3 linked regions of the Homo sapiens genome follow. The protein of the gene in region 1 purifies or fractionates together with the protein of each later gene. This does not show direct contact. Each region holds a gene or a part of one and is shown on either strand. Other genes may lie near its edges.

Region 1 (3,646 bases):
GTGTGGTGAGGGTGTGGGTCACTGGACCCCAGGAGCAAGGAGAGAGCTAAATGGGGCCGCAGCAGCAGGAGGGATGGAAGCTAGCCTGGGGGAAAGCCAGGGTTGGACCCCACCATCCCTCTGGCTGCCCTTCTCAGAGGGAGCTGCGCCTGCCACCCGGGAGGGCCCATGTGTCTATCATGTGGGTTCTCCCATGAGTTTGGAGTTTGGGCTTGGGACAGGGGAGACTGTGGGGTCAGCTGGCCAGGCGGCGGGGGTCATCCCCAGCGGGAATGAATGGTACGCTGGTGTTGACTGTAGTCAAGTGCCCTGTGGCACCTGGACACACCGTCTGTTCAGAAGAGGCATGAAACCTTTATTGTGGCTGTCTCTGCTCACTCATTGTTTCTGATTGGGCTATTTGAGGAACAGCCTGCCACGTTGGCCTCATTAGCATCGTGAGGCTCTTAATGGAACTGGATCCACACACGTGTACAGACACTCACAAACTCACTCAGGTACGCATGCCCGCCTGCACTAACCCCCAGAGGTCTGTGTATAGGGTTGTGCGCTCCTAAACCCCACCCCAGGTCAGACCCACCCTGACACACATGGCTTGTGACACCCATACCTTCACCCCAGTCACACTCTCACTGTCCCTTATTGGTGACTTTTCATTCACCTTGGGTGACCCACTGGCTCCAGTGGCCAAGGGCTGGCTTACTAGAGGGTGGCTGGGGGCCAGATGCCGGCAGCGGTTGGTTAAGCTTTTGGGACAGGAGGCAGCAGCATTGCCCTGGTGAGGCCACCCCCAGTGGGGCTCGACCCCCAAGCACTTTGGCTCCCCCCACGTCTCCCAGGAGAGTGTCTCTGGGTCCTGAGGCTGTCTGTCCTTGTGTAGTTCTCGTGAGCCTCTTTCTGCTTCGGCCTGTGAGTGTGTCTGGCCCTGCGCCTCCTGTGTGCTCCCCATCTGTGTCCTTTCCCCTCTCCTGACCCTGTCCTTTGTTATCTCTGTCTCTCCTCTCCACCCGTCTAGCTCTTTTTTCTGTGAGTCTTTCTATGTCTTTTCTTCTTCCTTTTTCTCTGCCTCCTCTGTCTACCCCTTCTCTCTCTGTCCCTCTCTCTCACACTCCCACTCTCAGTGTCTGACTGCGTGGCTATCTCTCTGGGTGGGTCTTTCTGTATCTTCACCTCTCTCTATATCTGCCTGTCAGTCTGGACATGTATCCCTCTGACTCTCTGCCTTAGTCTCTTGAGGAGTCTCGGCAAAAGGAGAGCCAAGAGTCCTGAAAGAAGGTGACAGCCAGGCACGGTGGCTCACGCCTGTAATACTAGCACTTTGGGAGGCTGAGGCGGGTGGATCACCTGAGGTCAGAAGTTCGAAACCAGCCTGGCCAACATGGTGAACCCCCGTCTCTACTAAAAATACAAAATTAGCTGGGCGCGGTGGCGCATGCCTGTAATCTCAGCTACTTGGGAGATTGAGGTGGGAGAATCGTTTGTACCTGGGAGGCAGAGGTTGCAGAAAGCCAAGATTGCGCCATTGCACTCCAGCCTGGGCAACAAATGTGAAACTCCATCTCAAAAAAAAAAAAAAAAGGTGATAATGCCTCCCAGGGGGCCACGATCACTTCTGGGCTCCTCCACTGCCAGGCAAGGCGGCAGGAAAGGGAATATCACGTCCTAGGGAGAGTGGATGGGCCGAGTGCAGTGGCTCACACCTGTAATCCCAGCACTTTGGGAGGCCAAGGTGGGTGGATTGCTTGAGGTCAAGGAGTTAGAGATCAGCCTGGCCAACATGGTGAAACCTCGTCTCTGCTAAAAAAGTACAAAAAATTAGCCGGGCTTGGTGATGGGTACCTTTAATCCCAGGTACTCGGGAGACTGAAGCAGGAGATTTGCCTGAGCCTGGGAGGTACAGGTTGCAGTGAGCCAACATCGTGCCACTGCACTCCAGCCTGGACGACAGAGTGAGACCCTCTCTCAAAAAAAAAAAAATAAATAAAATAAAATAAAAAGTAAAAAAAATAAAGAGCTGATGGCTCATCTCCTCTAACTCCTCTGTTGAGAACTCCGGGGTTTCGGCTCTGAACTCTGAAACTTTCTTCAGTGATGAGGCCCAGGGTCATAGGCCTGGGAGCAGGGCTGGGGGTCCAGAGTCATCACTCTGGGAGATAAGGGATAGAGCCCCTTGTCTGTCTGGTTGACCTGATTGACCTTGAACTGAGGGAAGGGTGTTGGGACTTGGAGTCTCCCTCAGAAGAGGCGTTGACCAGAGTGGGGCTGAATTGACACTTTTCTTTCTCCTGGAAGCAGTCAAGCTCAGCCCACCCACCCCGGGCCCCAGCTTCCTGCTCCAAACCACAGCTGTGCTCCCCACCCTGTTCCAAATATTTCTGCCAACTGCCCCAGGCCGAGGGGCCTGTTTAAACAGCCTCCCTGCCCTCTCCTGGCCTCCCCACCTCTGTGGCCTCCCCATCGCTCCCACGGCTTCTTGCACAGGAGCGGCTGTGTTGGCTGTTTGTTTATTGGATTAAGATTTCCTTGGGTGGGGCAAGGACTGACTCCACAGGTCCTTCTTCTCACTTTAGATGCCCAGGCTAGAGGCCAGACCCAGCTTTGGCCTTGCCCCCTGCCCTGTCCAGCCTTCCCCGGACCCCCGCCCCCCGCTCCCAGATGTCTCTCCTACATCCCAAGCCCCAGACTTCTCTACCCTTCTGATCTCAGCTCTGTTCAGTCCCGCATCTGATGCCAGCTGACCCCCTCCCCAGCCCCAAAGTTGAGTGCTCTGGCCCTGGAGGGCAGGATGGGGATGGGACACTCCCCCACTCCCTGCTGAGAGGAGAGGAAATGCCAGGAAAAGGCACTGGGAACAGGAACCCTTGGGTTTTCTAGGGGTTCCTAAAGAGGGACACATGGGGTGTGGTCTTTGGAATGTGGGAGAAGCCTGCCCACTCTCCCTGTTGGCAGAGGCTTGAGCCAGTCCTCCAGTGAGACTTTAGCAGAGGAATAATTCTCTGATGGGCTCGGGGCCCCTGTAAGAATCCATCTCCAGAACAATCTCCCTAGGACCCCAAAGGGCCTCCTATCCCCTGATTTTGTACAGAACTTTGCAGTATACAGAACTGCCTCATCCCATCCTATGAGCACCTGCAGAGATCAAAATTCTTTTTTTTTTTTGACACGAATCTCGCTTGCTCTGTTGCCCAAGCTGGAGTGCAGTGGTGCAGTCTCAGCTCACTGCAACCTCCCCCTCCCAGGTTCACAAGATTCTCGTGCCTCAGCCTCCTGAGTAGCTGGGATTACAGGCACATGCCACCATGCCCAGCTAATTTTTTGTATTTTTAGTAGAGACAGGGTTTTGCCATGTTGTCCTGGCTGGTCTCGAACTCCTGAGCTCAGGTGATCCACCCACCTCGGCCTCCCAAAGTGCTAAGATTACCGTCATGAACCTCTGGGCCTGGCTAAGATCAAAGTTCTTTTTGTAGATGATGAAAGCTCAGAGAGCAAAGGAACTTTCGCAGAATCAATCTTCTAGCAGAACCTGGACTGGAACCTGGGTCTCCTCACCCCTCACAGCCAGGGCTCCTTGCCAGACCATGCTGGAGCTGCTCCTTTGATTAAAAGAGTCACAGGCTGCAGTCACCCCTGGCTCTTCCTGAATCTC
Region 2 (4,237 bases), on another chromosome or scaffold:
AATGTGTTTGTATGAATATAAAGAAATGTATGGAAGGAAACTTATCAAATGTTAACATGGGTTATTTGGTGTTTAGGGGGAGCTTGTTGGCTTTTTCTTTGTTGTTTTTGATTTGTTGTCCCTAGCAGGATTTTTGGTTTGAAATGAAAATCCGATAAGATATCTTTTTAAAACGACTTTTCTTTTTAGTCTTTCAAATGCTTGTTTTAATGTGAATAAAAGAAATGCATTTGCTTGAGTGCTAGGTAAAACCGATGTGTGAGACTCAGGGTGGGTGGTGTGATTTGTGTGGTATGCATACGGCAGGGCTTGTAGCTTTACCAGATTTTGAACAATGACTGGGTTTTCATATTGGTGTAGTACAGCCACCTCGAGAAGATAAAACATTGCATAACACAGTTCTTTAACGTCTGTCATCCCAAGGTTTTCCATGGGTAAAATGGAGATTACAAATATCTACCACACAGATAGGGCTTTTTATTGTGAAATGACAAAAGGATTTTCAGAGTGTTAAAGTTTTAGCTGAATAGCTTTGGTTGAATTCTACTTTACAGTTTTGAGTAGCTATGACACACATCATTGCCATAGGGATCAAAAGGTGCAAGGTGACAGGATAAAAGCAGGCAAAATCTTGACCATACAAAGCATTATATTAACGTGCTAGGCGCGAATATAACCTGTTATAATATAATGTTGTTATTATTATTTGAGATGGAGTCTCACTCTGTTGCCCAGGCTGGAGTGCAGTGGTGCAATCTTCCCTCACTGCAACCTCCGCCTCCCGGGTTCAAGCAATTCACCTGCCTCAGCACCCCCTAGTAGCTGGGACTACAGGCGCGCGCCACCGGCTATTTTTTGTGTTTTTAGTAACGGGGTTTCACCCTGTTGGCCGGGCTGGTCTCGAACTCCTGACCTCAGATGATCCACCCACCTCGGTCTCCCAAAGTGCTGGGATTACAGGCGTGAACCACCGCGCCTGGCCATATAATGTTATTATTGAAGGCACAAATGATCAGGGAAGACTTCATGAAGGAGGTGAGACAATATAGGTCTTAAAAGGATGAGCGGTTTGGAGAGGACAGGCACAGAACCAGCAAAAGAGTGAAGACGGCGCTGGAGTTTTTTTTTTTTTTTGCCGCACGCCTTCGCCGCCACCACGCGGGAGCGCCCCTTCCGGGAGCCCGCTCCGCCCGGCTCTTCTCGGGCTTCGGGCGAGCGCGGTGCCAGCGGTACGCAGGCGCCGGGAGCCTACGAGGGCTCGCAGGAGCTGGGAGGCGCGCATGCGTGCAGCTCTTTGGAGGCGGTAGCGTTTTCGGCGTCGAGACTGGAGGCTGAGTGCTAAACTGTGTGGGGCGCGGATGGGATCCAGCTGTTAGTCGGGTAGGCATAGGTAGGACCGCTGCCCTGTGGGGAGTAGGGGGTTGGAAGGCGGAGGCCGGTATCGTGGGGGTCCTGAGCCCTTCCTGTGAGATCCGGGCCGACTATTGTATCTGTGTCGCAGCGGCTCCGCACAAAATGGCGGCGGGCAGACGGCGGGGGCGGGAGGAGGTTGGGGGACCCCCGGGATGGGAAGGGAAGCTGTGCTGTGCTGCCCTGCTCCGTCGTTTATTCACTTCGCTACCCGGGAGGGCCCGTCCGGGTACTCGTGAAGGACCCTGCCTCGAGAAGAGCTGCCTGACGCCGTTGCACTGGGCCGAGGATCGTGAAGAGCCCTTTGGCGAGGCCGAGGCGGCCCCTTCCCCAGCAGCGCCCGGCCTGCCGAGGCTGCGCTGGGCCTGACAGCCGAGGAAGCGGTGGTGAGGGAATGCCGAGCAGGGAGGAAGCGTTCCCGTCGGGCCCGAAGAGGCGGTGGAGTTTGAGCCGAGCCCTCTGACCAGCGACATTGTGCAAGAAGCGTGGAGAGAAGAGCGTGTTTGTGTTTGGGGTTGGGGAGGGGGTGTCGGGATGAAGGAGGGAATGTTAGGATCCAGCGGCTTTTCCGGGCTGGTGTTCTGTGCTGCGTAGTGCAGGTATGAAACCAAAGAAAATATCACCTCTGTGGGAGACTGAGGACTCATAAATGGTTGTGATACCTAACAGTATTTCCAAATTTCTCAGAGGAATTGTGAAAACAGAACGTTAGTGAATTGTTTTTGTGTGATTCTTAGCTTGGGCCCCGTTCTCTTAAAGGAAGGGGGAATGTATATATCACAGACTGGAATCCTTGAGAACGTTTGAAATAGATCTTTTGTTGTTTGAGGTAATTGTTAATGAGGGATACTTCAGTATTACAAAATCATGGATTGAGCTATAGAGTGAAGGCTACCTGAAGCTAATTTTTCTTAATCTTAAAATTTGTCCTTAGGCGAAGTTTGGGGCCAGGACCAGAAATTGTAGTAGTTTAAAGGAGTCCCGATGAAAAACTTGTCACCAGGATCCAGCGATTTATGTTCAAGTACTTTTTCCAACGAGCTCTGGAATTTTGCACAAAAAATTTTCTGCTTTTTCCCCTCATTTGTTGTAAAGGATTATTTTTTCAGGGATGTTGTGCTTGCTGGTTCAGATTTACAATTAAAAATTGATAACCTGGAGAAAAGGATTGACCAAAAAAAGGTGAATTTAAGGAAGTTTTCGGAGAAAAACAAACATGTAAATGACATTCAAATAGCTTTAAATTTTGTTAATGATTAGACATTTGAGACTTAGTGGACTTATGTTGCTGTCTTTTAAAAAAGTTTGACAGCATTTTATATTTTATTTTGTACTCCATATTCTGTAATATGTACTTCTAAATAATTACAGGGCGTCCCAGCATGTTATACATTAAAATATGCTGGGCCATTCCTTCCTTGGGGATTTATTTGTCTTGGAACCAAGAAAGGGTAAATATAACAGTTGGAAGAAATCACAAAATCTTATTCGTTTTTATTAACTAGTTTTCATAATGTGTTTATGGTCACATATTTATTGTATATTGGTTGTATTTGTTTTGTAATCCTTTTTTGCATTTTGTTTTGGAGGGTGTATACGGCAGGTACTCTAGGTTAAAAAGGTTTAGGTACTGTAGTTTAAAAAAGTCATCACTTTGTACTTGACTATCTTAGGGTTTTTCTTGGGTGCTCTTAAGTAGGTGATCTCCGGAAATTTTGTTTTTATGTAAGTGGAAGAAAATGAGACAAGTAGTTTAGTGGAAAGAGAATAGGCTTTGCAGTCGGAAGATCTGGATTCACATCTCCCTTTTCCTCAGTATGTGTGAGACTTTGGTAAATTATTTTAGTCTTTCTTGAGCTTTTGTTTCCTTATCTCTAAAATGGTGACATTATTACTTCCTGCTTGGGATTTTTGTGAGTGACTGTTAAGTGAGACAGTGTATGGAAAGCTCGTATTCCTTGGCACATACTAGGTGCTTAATGTTAGCTGTTACTTGTATTTCAAAATTGAAGTGCTTAGGCAGCATTGTTTGATAGAAAATTATAATCTGTGGGTATTCTCTTCTAATTAAACGGCTTAAAAGGATTTAGAGTAATAGAATTTTGGAGTTGAAAGGCCCTCTAATCTAACTTTCATTAAAATATTTTGTGCTTCTATAAACTTTTTACATGCCTTTCTTGTAGAACTTATCAATATATATTGTAACCATTTATATGATTGTTACGTTAGTCTTTGTATCTTTCCCAGTGCCTGGTATGTATTAGATGCTCAGATGTTGAGTGAATGAACTCAGCTGGTAGTCACCAGAGCCTGGACTCTAAATCATGCTCTTTCCACTGTACCTTAATGTATACTGATTAAGGTTTGGACTAAATTTGTCCAAATCCTTAATAAAATGCCTTATATACTTAGAAACAGTACTTCCAGTATTGGTACCCAGTAACATAGCTTGGGCTGTTTTGCAAGGAAACAGGCGCTAATGAATGCTGCCATGTAGTGGTTTTAGAGACTCTCCAAATTGAAAGTAATTATGTTTGTGGCTAAAGCTAATAAGCCCTCATGTGTATCCAGCTTATCTACTCTTAATTGCTTTAACTTTGTTTAGTGTTTTGAAATTTGTGATGGAAAATTAAAATGGAAGGAAAATAAGTATATAGAAGATGAGAAGAGAATAATGGAAAGGAAAAAGAGTGAGGAAAAGGTGAGATGTAGAAATAAAACACACAACTGTAATAATGCGGGTGAGGGCCGGGTGCGGTGGCTCATGCCTGTAATCCCAGCACTTTGGGAGGCGAGGTGGGCGGATCAGGTCAGGAGATCTAGACCA
Region 3 (3,646 bases), on another chromosome or scaffold:
TCTCAGGAATTACGTATGGAAATTGCAAAACAAGAATTAATCGCTCATGCCCGGGAAGCAGCATCCAGGGTCCTGAGTGCACTGAGTGGTGAGTGGCCCCAAGTCCTCCCTTCTGCAGTTCCGGGGGGCCTTGCTGGGGCCTCCTTGTGACAGTGCGCCCCTTACTGTCCCAATGTAGACCGGCAGATGTCAGAACGGATGGCCTTGGATGCCCGGAAGCGTGAGCAGTTTCAGAGGCTGAAAGAACAATTTGTGAAGGACCAGGAGGTGGGTAGGACCTGTCCCTGCGGGGTCACGCCTGTCAGTTCTGATTTCACAGGCCAGGCTCTATGTGTTTTATAGCGACGCCAGGCGGCCAGGCAGGAGGAGCTGGATGATGACTTCAGCTACGCCCGTGAACTCCGAGACAGGGAGAGAAGGCTGAAGTCCCTGGAGGAGGAGCTGGAGAGGAAGGCGAGGTAGGGCAGCCCGGGCTCCAGGCCCAGGGGTGCAGTGCGGCAGGGGCCCCATAGCTCTGGCTTAATCTTACTGATGATTTTACTTTTTGTTTTGAAAACCTTCAAACATACATTAAGGTAGAAAGACCAATATGCTGAACCCAGAGTGGCTGTGGGCGTTCTGCCTTATCCAGGCATCCTTAGCTGTTCTGCGCGTTGTCTTGTGGTGGTTTGTATGGATTAGGGTCCAGGCGAGGCCTGCGTACTGTTTGGGGTCCTGTCTCTTTATTTATCTTCTTTCTGAACATCCTTCCTTATTTATTTTTAAGTCTGTTATTGGTCTGACAGAGACAGGGCGTTTTTTTTTTTTTTTTTTTTTTTGGAAACAGAGTCTTGCTCTGTCACCCAGGCTGGAGTGCAGTGGCACAATCTCGGCTCACTGTAACCTCCGCCTCCCAGGTTCAAGCAATTCTCCTGCCTCAGCCTCCTGAGTAGCTGGGGTTACAGGCATCCGCCACCACATCCAGCTAGTTTTTTGTATTTTTAGTACAGACGGGGTTTAACCATGTTGGCCAGGCTGGTCTCAAACTCCTGACCTCAGGTGATCCACCTGCCTCGGCCTCCCAAAGTGCTGGGATTACAGGCGCGAGCCACCGCGCTCGGCTGAGACAGGGCATTTGTCCAGCACAGCATCTGCGTCTGTCTCCCTGTGCTGTTATCAACCTGTCCTGTGCTGTCATCAGGCTGTCCCAGGCTGAGTAGTGCTGGATCCTTCAAGGGGCTGTTTGGGGTTTTGGAGAGAGCCCCTCACGGGAGGGGCTGGCCGCTTCCTGCTCAGCCCCACGCGATGCTGTAGGTCCCAACCTTAGATCTCTTTATGGAGCGAGTGAGGGATGTGTGTGGAGGGGTGCGCGTGCCTGTGTGCACGTGTGTCCGTGTATGCATTTATGCATGAGTACGTGTTCATGCATGTATGTCAGTCGATACTGTCCTGTTAACACATGGAGAAAACCAGGCCTAGACACTACGTCTCTGGCCTGTGGCAGCCAAATTAGAGCTGGCCAGTCCAGGTTTGAGCCCAGTTGCCTGCTGGTGAGAAGCTCAAAATCATGGGGCACGATCGGTGAAGCAGGCTTTGAATTCAGCAAATAAAGCGTTTGTGTTGGTTTTGCTTCATGTGCTTTTTTGCATTAGTTTTCAGTTCTCAGGTTTGTACCTGTAGAAGGGGAAGAGGCCTAACTTCTTAGAGGCCTGGGGCCCTCGGCCTCCTGCTCACCCCTTGCTTCAGGCCACACAGGATCTCATTCTGGTATTTGTCCAGCAGATGTTGCTGAGCCCTGGCTGGACGCTGACTCACCAGGGTCTCCCAGCCTGGCAGGTAGAAGGGCCTGCCTGGTGCTGCCCTGTAGGTGCTGTGAGGGCCCAGAGCTATCAGCCCCTGGTAGGGGGAGACGGGGGCGGGGGCCCACTGGGGCCTCTGTTATGGAGAACCATCCTGGCCTGAGGGGTGCCAGGTAGATGGGGTGGGGTGACTCTTGTGGCCGTGTCCTCTCTGGTGTGTGGCTTCAGGCAGGCACTGGTCGACCACTACAGCAAGCTCTCTGCAGAGGCAGCTCGTCGGGAGCAGAAGGCACTGTGGAGAATCCAGAGGCACCGACTGGAGAGTGCACGGCTTCGTTTTCTCTTAGAAGATGAGAAACACATTCAGGTATGTCTGCGGCTTCAGATGGCAGCTCTTCCCCTGGGCTTTGGGGGTCTGGAAACCCCCTGAGACTGCACACAAACCTACATGCTCTTCTAGGAGAGGGCTGGTGGCTTTCGCGTTTGCGGCAGAGCACTCTCTCTCCCCGTGTGCCACCAAATTGCACAGATACAGGTGGTGAGGAGCTCGTGGTTTTGGAGTACTTTTTGCAGGCCCAGCGTCCCACTGGAGCCCAGCACAAGCCTTGTCTGGTTCAGTGCACATGGCTGCCATGGGCGGTAGGGGCTGTGGCTTTGTGTGGGGTAGGGCTGTGCTTGACTCCGGCTTGGCCAGTCACCCCTCTGGCTTGAATTTCAGGAGATGCTGAAAGCAGTGTCTGAGGCTCACCAGCCCCAGGAGCCGCCAGACGTCCTCTTGAGCGTGCACCCCCAGGTAAGCGGCAGAGTGGAACCCAGGGTGCCCTATGGTTTTCCCATAGCCCTCGGCACCTGGTGTTGGTCATGGCTGCAGAGCTGAACTTGGGGGACAGTTCGAGGGCTGGGGGGTCCTGAGACCAGACTGGGTCTGATGTCACCTGTGTTTCAGGTCACGTCTCCGGGCCCTGAGCACCCAGAGGGAGGCCAAGGCTGTGATTCTGGGTCTGCAGAGCAACACTCGCCTGCCTGGGATGGCTGGAACAGGCCAGGCCTGCTGACCCCACAGCCCCTTAAGCCTCTAGCAGTGGGGGCTGGTGGCAGGGGGCTGCAGCAGGCGGAGGGGGCCAGACCCTTCTCTGACAGCCTCAGCATTGGAGACTTCCTACCTGTGGGCCCAGGGGCTGAGCCGTCCGTGCAGACTGGCATGGTCCCTCTCCTGGAGGTGGCGCTGCAGACCATTAACTTGGACCTGCCCCCCTCAGCTCCTGGGGAGGCACCCGCAGCAGCCAGCACTCAGCCCTCCAGGCCACAGGAGTACGACTTTAGTACTGTCCTGAGGCCAGCTGTGGCCACCTCACCTGCACCAGGGCCCCTGCAGGCTGCAGAGTGCAGCTTGGGCAGCTCAGGGCTACAGCTGTGGGAGGACAGTTGTGGGAAGATGGATGCCTGTGGCTCCGCCTCGCGGGAGACTCTGCTCCCCTCACACCCACCCAGGCGTGCTGCTCTGGAGGAGGGGAGCAGCCAGCCCACAGAGCGGCTCTTTGGGCAGGTGTCAGGGGGTGGTCTTCCCACAGGGGACTACGCTTCTGAAATAGCTCCCACCCGGCCACGGTGGAACACCCACGGGCACGTGTCTGACGCCAGCATCAGGGTCGGGGAGAATGTGTCAGATGTGGCTCCCACCCAGCCACGGTGGAACACCCACGGACACGTATCCAATGCCAGCATCAGCTTAGGGGAGTCTGTGTCAGATGTGGCTCCCACTCGGCCACGGTGGAACATCCATGGACATGTGTCCAACGCCAGCATCAGGGTCGGGGAGAATGTGTCAGATGTGGCTCCCACCAGGCCACGGTGGAATACCCACGGGC

What was found.
Region 2: the proteins of ZNF385C (region 1) and ZNF638 purify together in Homo sapiens (affinity purification with mass spectrometry, with the first as the bait; one large-scale study listed by BioGRID). This does not show direct contact.
Region 3: the proteins of ZNF385C (region 1) and TUBGCP6 purify together in Homo sapiens (affinity purification with mass spectrometry, with the first as the bait; one large-scale study listed by BioGRID). This does not show direct contact.

The regions. Positions count from the first base shown.
Region 1 is NC_000017.11:42,091,917-42,095,562, reverse strand, and holds part of ZNF385C (zinc finger protein 385C), read left to right. Parts: intron 1-3,646.
Region 2 is NC_000002.12:71,330,486-71,334,722, forward strand, and holds the start of ZNF638 (zinc finger protein 638), read left to right. Parts: upstream 1-1,296; 5' UTR 1,297-1,390; intron 1,391-4,237.
Region 3 is NC_000022.11:50,220,953-50,224,598, reverse strand, and holds part of TUBGCP6 (gamma-tubulin complex component 6), read left to right. Parts: intron 1-6; coding exon 7-88; intron 89-178; coding exon 179-267; intron 268-342; coding exon 343-458; intron 459-2,006; coding exon 2,007-2,145; intron 2,146-2,496; coding exon 2,497-2,571; intron 2,572-2,724; coding exon 2,725-3,646. UniProt on the Homo sapiens protein: Component of the gamma-tubulin ring complex (gTuRC) which mediates microtubule nucleation.